Homo sapiens: one gene and its partners. The protein of the gene in region 3 purifies or fractionates together with the protein of the main gene of each other region. This does not show direct contact. Each region holds a gene or a part of one and is shown on either strand. Other genes may lie near its edges. The genes, in order: HKDC1, HERC1 and UCN3.

Evidence for each region.
Region 1: the proteins of UCN3 (region 3) and HKDC1 purify together in Homo sapiens (affinity purification with mass spectrometry; one large-scale study listed by BioGRID and IntAct). This does not show direct contact.
Region 2: the proteins of UCN3 (region 3) and HERC1 purify together in Homo sapiens (affinity purification with mass spectrometry; one large-scale study listed by BioGRID and IntAct). This does not show direct contact.

Annotation. Positions count from the first base shown.
Region 1 is NC_000010.11:69,218,678-69,222,431, reverse strand, and holds the start of HKDC1 (hexokinase HKDC1), read right to left. Parts: upstream 2,101-3,754; 5' UTR 1,997-2,100; coding exon 1,934-1,996; intron 1-1,933. UniProt on the Homo sapiens protein: Catalyzes the phosphorylation of hexose to hexose 6-phosphate, although at very low level compared to other hexokinases. Has low glucose phosphorylating activity compared to other hexokinases. Involved in glucose homeostasis and hepatic lipid accumulation.
Region 2 is NC_000015.10:63,638,316-63,641,969, forward strand, and holds part of HERC1 (probable E3 ubiquitin-protein ligase HERC1), read right to left. Parts: intron 3,329-3,654; coding exon 3,155-3,328; intron 2,131-3,154; coding exon 1,837-2,130; intron 462-1,836; coding exon 396-461; intron 222-395; coding exon 96-221; intron 1-95. UniProt on the Homo sapiens protein: Involved in membrane trafficking via some guanine nucleotide exchange factor (GEF) activity and its ability to bind clathrin. Acts as a GEF for Arf and Rab, by exchanging bound GDP for free GTP.
Region 3 is NC_000010.11:5,367,919-5,371,572, reverse strand, and holds part of UCN3 (urocortin-3 preproprotein), read right to left. Parts: intron 1-3,654. UniProt on the Homo sapiens protein: Suppresses food intake, delays gastric emptying and decreases heat-induced edema. Might represent an endogenous ligand for maintaining homeostasis after stress.

The DNA of each region.
Region 1 (3,754 bases), about 64 Mb from region 3:
GAAAGTGGATTCCTAGGCAGCGCCTCCTTAAGTAGCCAGTAGAGGGCTCTGAATCTAATCAACAAGTGATTGCTTTATAATGTTTTTAAATTTGCTACAACCTCTAACTCAACTCTCTAAATGAATAGAATTTAGTGGGAGTTTATCCCACCAAGTACCTGAGGGCTGTAAGGGGCCACACTTCCTCTCTCTCTTTCTTTGTTTTGTTTTGAGACGGAGTCTCATTCTGTTGCCCAGGCTGGAGTACAATGGCATGATCTCGGCTCACTGTAACCTCTGCTGCCCGGGTTCAAGGGATTCTCCTGCCTCAGCCTTCTGAGTAGTTGGGATTACAGGCGCACTCCACCACGCCCAGCTAATTTTTAAATTTTTAGTAGAGACGGGGTTTCACCATGTTGGCCAGGGTGGTCTCAACCTCCTGACCTCAGGTGATCCACCCACCTTGGCCTCCCAAAGTGCTGGGATTATAGGTATGAGCCACCATCCTTGGCCTTTTTTTTTCTTTTCTTTCCTTTTTTTTTCAGACAGGGTCTCACTCTGTCACCCAGGCTGGAGTGCAGTAGCGCAGTCTCCCGGGCTCAAGCCATCCTGCCACCGCAGCCTCCCGAGTAGTTGGGACTGTAGGCACACACCACCATGACCGGCTAATTTTTACATGTTTTGTAGAGATGGGGTTGCTCCATGTTGCCCAGGCTGGTCTCAAACTCCTGACCTCAAGTTTGAGATGAGATCTGCTCATCTCAGCCTCCCAGTGTATGCAGATTACAGCCGTGAGCCACGGTGCCTGGCCTCCTTATTCATTTTGTAAAGCAGGAGGGAGTCATGGCACAGCAGAAAGCATTGAAGGAAGAGTCAGCCAACTTGGATTTAATCCTCATTCCATCCTAAATACTTGGTGACCTTGGCTAAGTCCTCCTGCTAGGAGGACTTCTGTCATCTGCACTTTGAGAGATGCTTTTTGCCCAGGGCCGTGACAGCCAGCCGGTGTGGCCAGAGTAGCAGACTGGGCTCATTTTAGCTGCCTGGAAAGAACCCTGGTTCCCTCCTGTTGACCCTTGGCAACCTTTAACCAGCCCACTTTGGAATGAATTTTGTAGACAAGTTCCCTGAGCAAAGTGACAAAATAATGCACACCATGAATAGTGTACCATTGGCAAATAGCAGGTGCCAATAATAGATATTTCAATTACTGTCTATTGCAACTCACACCTTCTTGCTGCCCACATTTATATGCTTTCAAATACATGAACAAACAGATCTGCCCCAACAGTTCTTTTTTTTTAGATGAAGTCTCACTCTTGTCCCCTAGGCTGGAGTGCAATGGCGCGATCTCGGCTCACTGCAACCTCCACCACCTGGGTTCAAGCGATTCTCCTGCCTCAGCCTCCCGAGTAGATGGGATTACAGGTGCCCGCCACCACACCCAGCTAATTTTTGTATTTTTAGTTGAGACGGGGTTTCACCATGTTGGCCAGGCTGGTCTCGAACTCCTGACCTCAGGTAATCCGCCCACCTCGGCCTCCTAAAGTGCTAGGATTACAGGCGTGAGCCACTGCGCCCAGCCTTCTGCTCCAACAGTTCTTAAAACTTCTTTGAAAATGATTCTCCTCGCCTTTGTGGCCTTTCCGAGCAAACATCCCTTACAGCAAACACAATCCTCTTCAAGCTTTCCAAACACCCTCCTCACCCGCTTCCGCATCCAATACCTGCCAGGAAGTTCCGAGTGAAGTGTAAGGTTCAGGACAGTAATGCAATGCCCAGGAGTGTGGGAGAATTACTCCCTCTTCCCTCAGTGAGTCTTTTACTGGTCATATGCTCCCAGTATCTTTTCTAATAAGCTCTCTTCACTCCCTTCTGATTTTTTTTTTAAGGGAATCAGTTTTGTCCGTGAAGAAGGAGCTGGGCATCTCTCAGCTTCGTGGGTCCTCCTTACCTTCTTGATCTGGTCCTCCTTCAGCTTGCTGAAGTAAAATGCCATCAAGTGGACCGCAAACATTTTCCCCAAGTTTGGTTTCTCCTGAGATGGGCAGAGATTCCTGTGCAGTGTTCACTCCTACGACTCTGGAGTGTTGCACGCTTCCAGTCCAGGCTGGCAGACCTCCTGGGGAGCGAGGTGTTGCGGACTAAATACCTCCAGCCTGCTTGGTTCAATGATTAAACTCCCCCCCACCCCACCCCTTTGGTCCCTCCCTCTGGCACACACTTGATTGTCTAATAGGAGGCTCTGGATGGTAGCTGAGGTTTAGTGGAGGGGGAAGCAGGGTATTGATGGGTTGCTTGACTACTTGAGAATTGGGTGCCACCAAATCTCATTGCTAAGCAACCCTCTCAAGCCGGGGCTCTGCCAAGCCCACTCAGCCGAGGAAAATCTTCTGCGAAGTTGGGCACTAAACAAAGCCAACTTTCAACCGGTGGAGCTGCTCTGCAAATTTCCAGTCCCAGGCTTTTCTCTTTAGTTTTTTATGCCAGTGGCATAACTCTGTGACCCCCTGCTCCTCAGAAGCACTGAACTAACTAAAACTAAACATTGTCCTGGTCAATGGGATTTCAAGAATGTTGGGGCAGATTCTTCCATTTGTGACAGATCAGATCTCTTAACTAATAGCCCATGGTTAACAGAAAATGATCAATAAATGTTTACCTATTCACAGTGTTAAGCCAGAAAATCTTTAGTTCACAGGTAGTGACCCAGGAAAAAATATTCCTGAGAAAGAGTGAACTGAAGTCACCAGTGCTCACTGGGAATCACTGCTGGAGAGAAGGAAGTCACAGATAAGAAATGTCTCAGTCCAGCCGGGTGCAGTGACTCACGCCTGTAACAATCGCAGCACTTGGGGAGGCCGAGGCAGGCAGATCATGAGGTCAGGAGTTCGAGACCAGCCTGGCCAACATGGTGAAACCCCATCTCTACTAAAAATACAAAAAACTTAGCCAGGAGTGGTGGCAGGTGCCTGTAATCCCAGCTACTTGGGAGGCTGAGGCAGGAGAATCACTTGAACCTGGGAGGCAGAGGTTGCAGTGAGCCGAGATCGCGCCATTGCACTCCAGCCTGGGTGACAAGAGCAAAACTCCATCTCAAAAAAAGAAAAAAAAGAGAAATGTCTCAGGCCACTGAGATGTTTTATTCACTCACTTCTCACTCATCATACTTGACATGAGAAGGACCCAGAAAGCACCCAATACATGGGTACAATCAACCTTGCACTCTTCCCACAGTCACTGGCTGGCTAATGAAACCAATAACAACAGCGTTAACAACAGCGGCTAACATGGATGGAGCATTTACCAATCCCATTTTGTTTTTATTACTCTTGTTATTATTATTTTTTAGACAGGGTCTCATTCATCCCCCAGGCTGGAATGCAGTCGTGGAATCATGACTCGCTGCAACATCAGCCTTCTGGGCTCAGGTGATCCTCCCATCTCAATCCCCAGGGTAGCTGGGGCTACAGGCACGTGGCACCATGCCCAGCTAATTTTTGTATTTTTGTAGAGATAGGGTTTTGCCATGTTGCCCTGGCTGGTCTTGAATTCCTGGGCTCAAGCGATTTACCCACCTCAGCCTCCCAAAGTGTTGGAATTACAGGCATGAGCCACTGCTCCCGGCCCACTCTTATTTTATAGATGAAAAAATTGAGGCCCAGAAAGGTTACGTGATCACAAAGCCATAAACAGGACAGCAAGGGGTCAATCCTGGAAGTTTGATTCCAGGGCCCAGCTATAATACATGGCATTGGCTCTCCAGCCCTGCTTT
Region 2 (3,654 bases), on a different chromosome or scaffold from region 3:
TGAAATGGACAAGCTTTATCCCACAATAAGACAAGCAAAAGAATTAGAATTTTCAGTTCCCATGTTTCTTTTCTATTTTTTATCCTGTTAGTTACCTGTTGGGCCTGTGAGAATGAGGGAGCTGCTGCAGGTACCATTACATTTCTTCCAGCTTCTGCCAGCTGTCCATGCCTACCAGCACCCCATAAGTAGACATCACATTTACCTCCCAGGTGCCAGTCCTAGAAAACCACAATCATCTCAAAATTAGAGTCATCCATTCACTCAAACAGCCATGTACTACGTACCAAGTGTGTGCCAGCCTGTATGGGAGACACCAGGGCACAAACACACAAGCATTTAGAATCAAAACATTGACTGAGAACCATCATACAGTTATCTTCATCTTTACTGACCTCAGGTCTGGAAGTTGCCCAAGACATAATTTGTTCATCCATGCCGTTAATCCATTTACTGTTATCCTGAAAAACAGGGGGTACATAATGATCAATTCTGCTTAGGCAAGATGCACCTGCTCTTAACCACAAAGTCCTCTTCTAATCATTAAGTCTTATTTCCAAAAAAGAATATGGTAATATTATGATAAATTAAGAGCAGTTTTATAATTATGTCAAACTTGATTTTATGCACTGTCAGTATTTCCCTTTATTATAAACACTTTCACTATCACTATCACTATGGCATTGGTGATTCAAAGCTAGCCATGTGTTTTCTGAACACCCACAGGTACAAGGTCATGTGGAGGACCCCACACCCCTGTAAACTCTTTGTGTAGCTGTGGGCAAATTACTTCATCTTTCTGGGCTTCAGCTTCCTCATCTACAAAATTACAGAGTTGGGCCAAATGGGCTTAGAAGGACATTTTCTGATTAAAATATTGTATACTTTTGTGCCACGTGACATTTCAGTCAACAACAAACTGCATGTGTGAAGATGGTCTCTTAAGATTATAAAACCTTATTTTTATTATATCTTCTATGTTTACATACACAAATACTTATCACTGTTACAAATGCCTAGAGCATTGAATACAGTCATATTCTGTACAGGTTTGTAGCCTAGGAGTAATCAGACTATACCGTATAGTCTTGTTGCAAGTAGGCTGTATCATCTAGGTTTGTGTAAGTACTATACACTCTATGATATTCCCAGCGTCAAGATTGCCTAACAATGCATTTCTCAGAACATATCCCCATCATTAAGTGATGCATAGCTACAGTTACATAATTTTACTTAATTTATATTTGTCTGTTTCATATTGTATCAATGTTTATCCAAATGTTTGTATACATAAATCTTAAGTATACAAAGAGGTTGTTAGATCATGTGCTGTCCTGTAGTCTAAACAGGTATTTTATCTATGTCACAGTTTCTAGAGTAGACACTCTCAAATACAAACAGAATGAAATGACAATTAGAATGCTCTTCTATATTTTATTTGATGCTAATTAAAGACATGATTGAAATGCCAAATAAATTAGAATCTATATGTGGCATATAACCCACAAGATGACCAGGAAAAGATGCTAAGATATATACAACTAAAGCACTAACAAAGTACCTATGGACAAAAGAAAATGAGAAAATATGGGACTATGTCATTGAGAGGTGGCAGGTTTACAAGAGTTCAACAGTGCTTACATTATCAATTCCTGTCACTATGGAGGCCTGCCATCAGATTGAAAGTGACTATCTGAAAGAAAAATATTTTCCATTTCTCTTAAGGGTATCCTTCTAGCCATGCATACCAGCAAAGACTTATTAGGGGTCTGCTACATGCCCAATACCCATGATAAAATCTCAGCTGCAAATAATAGCAGCTCACAGTACATTTACCATTAGAAATACAAGTTCATCCTCTGGAACAGGTTCTAGATCTGGAACGGTAAAAGATTCTGGAAACTGGGCTCCATTGGTCAGGGCTTCGGCAGCTTTTATAGTGGTTGAGAAACATTCTAACCAGGCCCATTCATTTGGATTCCAGGATGCAGGGTCAGGGAGACAGTTCTGGTGGTGTGGTGGCACTGGAGGGTTACACAACAGCTGATCCAGATGAAGTCCCACAGCAAGGGAAGCCAAGCATTGCATATAGGGGCTATGAACAAGTTGGTCACCACAAACCACATGAGGCTAAAACAAAATACAAGGATATAATATGTCAAAGAGTTTGTGCCAAATATTCTAAATTAACCTACCGTAGTCTGAAAGTCTGGAATCATATTTTTCAAGTTTACTGTTTAAGCTTTTTGCTAGGAAATAATTTTAGATTTAGAGTGAGTTGTACAGATAGTACCGAGGATTTCTGTATACCCTTCGCCCAACTTTATCCAATGTTAACATCTTATACAACCCTGGCACATTTATCAAAACTAACAAACTAACATTGGTACAATACTAACTAAACCACAGAACTTTATTTGGTTTTCCTCAGTTTTCCCATTAATACTCCTTTTCTGCTCCAGGATCCAATCTAAGCTATCACACTGCATATAGTACATTTTCATCATGGTTTTTCTTGATTGGAAAAAAAAGCAGGTAACTATTTAACCACAGAGATCTGCTCTTCTCACTTTCCTCCTTTATAAGAGAATCCTGGTAGCCATCAAAGGAAAAGCAAAAAGCTGGAAGACAGGCTACTTTAGGATCACTGTCTGGACAAGTTCAAACGCTGCAATTCCTCATTCCAGTATTTAATGACCCTACTCAATTCAACATAGCTCTTCCACTAAATTTTCCACAAAGATTTATCTAATAAGTGGAGACGATATTCAGTCTGATACCCGCATCCATCCCTATCCCTCAACTTTGGAATGGCCAAGCCATATAAAAATAGATATATGTGTGGGTCAGAAAAGGGAAGATATTCTGCTGCATAGGTATTTTAAGAAGCTTTGGAGTGAATAAATAATCTGAAAAGCAGTAATACAAACTTGGTGTTTGTTTCTTTATTTTACTCTGGTGAAAATAAAGCAAGAATAGGCTTAGGGTTGCTGAACAACTCTTTTAGGCATGACTTACCTTCATTTGATTCTGCCCAAATAGCCCCACTTATTATCCTCAGACCTCATGCTTTTAAGGGATAAGTTCAAGGCTATAATCACATTCCAAAGCACCAGGTATCTGTGTATCTCTAGGAGTGAGTGTAATGAGTTACCTTTTCATAGGCATACTGCTCCTGAAGCATCATGGGGAGCCGCTCCAAAAATGCTCTCATGCAGGGAGCCATGTTCAATCCCAGAACACCCTGCTGTTTCAATGCTGTCCTACAGGTTGCCAAAACATGATTGGCAGCTGCCCATTCTGCTGTACAATTCACGACCAAAACATCCTGGTTGAAAATAAATCATGCCACATAATAAATTTGTTTAAATAAAAAATAATGCTATCACCATTTAATCTGCGAAATTCCTTCTAGTAACTGGGACATCTTTGCTTTTTGGATATTTTATATCCAAAAAGGCTATGCTTTTAATGCCTATGGAACTTCAAAATATCCTAAATTTTGTCTAAGTAAAAAATAATGAGAAATAATAAAATTTGTGAACTACCTCTGATTAGCTGGTACTTTTTAAGGAAAAAATGTCAATAATTAACTATTTCTTCAGAACCTGCAGAATAAGGCATCTACTATATTTCAAAAGTCATGTCTGACAT
Region 3 (3,654 bases):
CAGACAGCCTTAGGCTGTGAGCGATGGACAGAACCAGCGCTGACCCTTAGCAAAGGGAGCCTGGGTCTCTTTCTAAAGGAGGATCCTGTAAGTCCCCGCTGCTTCACTTACCCTGGAAACAGACACACACACAGGACGCACAGGAACATAGACAAGCACACATACAAACAGGTACACATACACATACACATGCACCCACATACAGATACACACATATATACATGCACACATGTGCATATACACACCTTACACGTACATACACATACATATAGACACATGCACACACATATATACATGCACATACACGCACACACACCTCACACATACATATAGACATGCATATTTATACATGCACACATATGCACACATACACACCTCACACGTACACATATGCACATACATACACATGCACACACATATACATGCACACATATGCACACACATACATACCTCACATGTACATGCATACACACAACCATACACATGCACACACATACACACCTCACACGTACATACATACACACACATACATATAGACACATGCACACACGTATATATATGCACACATATGCACACACATACATACCTCACATGTACATACATACACACACACACACCTTACACACATACACATGAACACACATATACACACGCATATACACACGCATATACACACGCATATACACACGCATATACACACACATACACACGCACACACACGCGCACACACACGCGCACACACACGCGCGCACACACACGCACACACACATATACACACGCATACACACACACACGCATATACACACGCATATACACACACATCATATACACACACATATACACACGCATATACACACACATCATATACACACACATATACACACATACACACACACATACACACACATACACACACATACACACACATATACACACACATACACACGCATATACACGCATATACACACGCATACACACACACATATACACACATATACACGCATATACACACACATATACACACATATACACGCATATACACACACACATACACACACATATACACACGCATATACACACACATACACACATATACACACGCATATACACACATATACACACACACATACACACGCATATACACACGCATATACACACACACATATACACACACATATACACACGCATATACACGCATATACACACGCATATACACACACATATACACACGCATATACACACGCATATACACACACATACACGCATATACACACGCATACACACACGCATATACACACGCATATACACACGCATATACACACGCATACACACACGCATACACACACGCACATACACACACATACACACGCATATACACACGCATATACACACGCATATACACACACATATACACACACATATACACACGCATACACACACATACACACACATACACACACATATACACACGCATATACACACGCATATACACACGCATATACACACATATACACACACATACACACGCATATACACACGCATATACACACACATATACACACACATACACACACACATACACACATATACACACGCATATACACACGCATATACACACACATATACACACACATACACACACACACATACACACACATATACACACACACATATACACACACACATATACACACACATATACACACACACCCACGTGGATAAATGTTTACCCAGCACATTTCCTGTCAAAGCCTGTTCCTTCCCTTGGTTCTCCACATTGCAGCTGTTGCCTTTCTTTCCTTTAATTTTTTTGTCTAAGAAATCAGGTTTTGCTTTGTTTGTTCCATTTATTTTGCATTACAAAAATTTTGAGAGCTTATTTTATGCACTAATATTTTTCATAATTTATGAGAAAACACATGATCCTCGCTTTAAATAGTCCAAACCTATGAACTAGCCAGATCTGGGCATGTTGCCTGGCGAAGTGAGAACAACACAGGCTTTGGAGTTAGACACAGGCTCGAATTCCTTCTTCGTCCTTATTTCCTTATTTGCCTGAGGGTTTGGGCCGATAACCTCTGTGAATTTCAATTTCCTTCTCTGATAAATGGGATGGCAATAACCACCTCATGAAGGTTAAGTGAAGGATTCGATGAGAAACGTCAATGTGTGTATGAAAGCTCCTTGTCTGAGCAGATGCTCAATCAAGGCTGACCCACACCTGAATAATCTCCAGGTCTTCTTAGGAGAAGATCTGGTCTGCACACAACCTTTTCAGAAGTGCATTTTACACACACAGTTGTGTATACACAATACACATATGTACAGAGAGACCAGGAAATCTGAGCAAGCATTTGATCCTGCAGAGCAATGTCCTTGTTGTATCGTATCTCTGGCTTGTAGCTTTTGGCTCCATGCTACCCTCTCCACCCTGACCTGTGCAGACTCCTTTTGCCCTTAGTCTAAGTAAGCGGTTCTCAACTTTCAGGTGCTTTGGACTCATGTGAAGGCGCGGTTCAAACACAGCCTGCGGGGCCCCGTCCCAAGAGTTTCTGAGTCACTGGGTCTGGATGCTCCTGAGAACATGCATTTCTAGCACAGTCCCACGTGATGCTGATGCTGAGGTCTGAGGGCCACACTCTGAGAACCGCTGCTCTGCGTGCTCTGACCCGACTCTGGACTCCTTAGAGCTGTACCCCGGAGTTCCAGGGGTGCACTAACCGTCCCTGTGGAAAATGGGCTTTTCTTTCCTTAAATGTTGCATTCAATAGGCAGACCTTCAGCTTTCTCATTTACAGAGGACCTAATGAGTTGTTTTTCATAAATAGAGTATGAAGCATGGTTTTAGCTGCCTTATACCTTGAAGGCATCTTAAAGCTTGGAAATTATTTCGAATGGCTTGCTAACCCTGAAAGGGTTTAAAAAAACAAAAACCAATTTGGAAAGGTTAATACTGGGGGGAAAGTGGTGGAGAAACTTTGTCTCTCTGTCCCTTTCTTCCTTCATCCCTTTTTTCCTTTCACTACCAGACTCAGTCCTGTCCCTCCCACTCACTAGCTCATGCCTAACCGCCCAGGACCTCACTATTTTCCTCTGTGAGAGCAGGGGATTGAGTTCGAGAATCTTTGTTCTGATTTCTTTCTTTTTCTACTTCTGAAAGCCAGAGGTCCCTCTACGAAAAGCACTGGGAGAATGAAATGAGTTCTTGATTTTCACCAAATGAAAGGCGCCTGGACTCTGGGTGGGTGTAAGCTAAAATAGAGGGTGCTGGCCGGACTGGGTGGCTCACACCTGTAATCCCAGCACTTTGGGGGGCCGAGGCAGGTGGATCACCTGAGGTCAGGAGTTTGAGACCAGCCTGGCCAACATAGTGAAACCCTGTCTCTACTAAAAATACAAAAATTAGCCAGGCGTGGTGGCACACGCCTGTAATCCCAGCTACCCAGAAGGCTGAGGCAGGAGAATTGCTTGAGCCTGGGAGGTGGAGGTTGCAGTGAGCCAAGATCATGCTACTGCACTCCATCCTGGGTGAAAGAGTGAGACTCTGTCTCAAAAAAATAAATAAATTAAAAAAATTAGAGGGTGCTGAGATGCAACCCTGGAGCTACCCTCAGGCCTCCCTCTGTGGGTTCCACATGGCTCTCTCCCCACTGC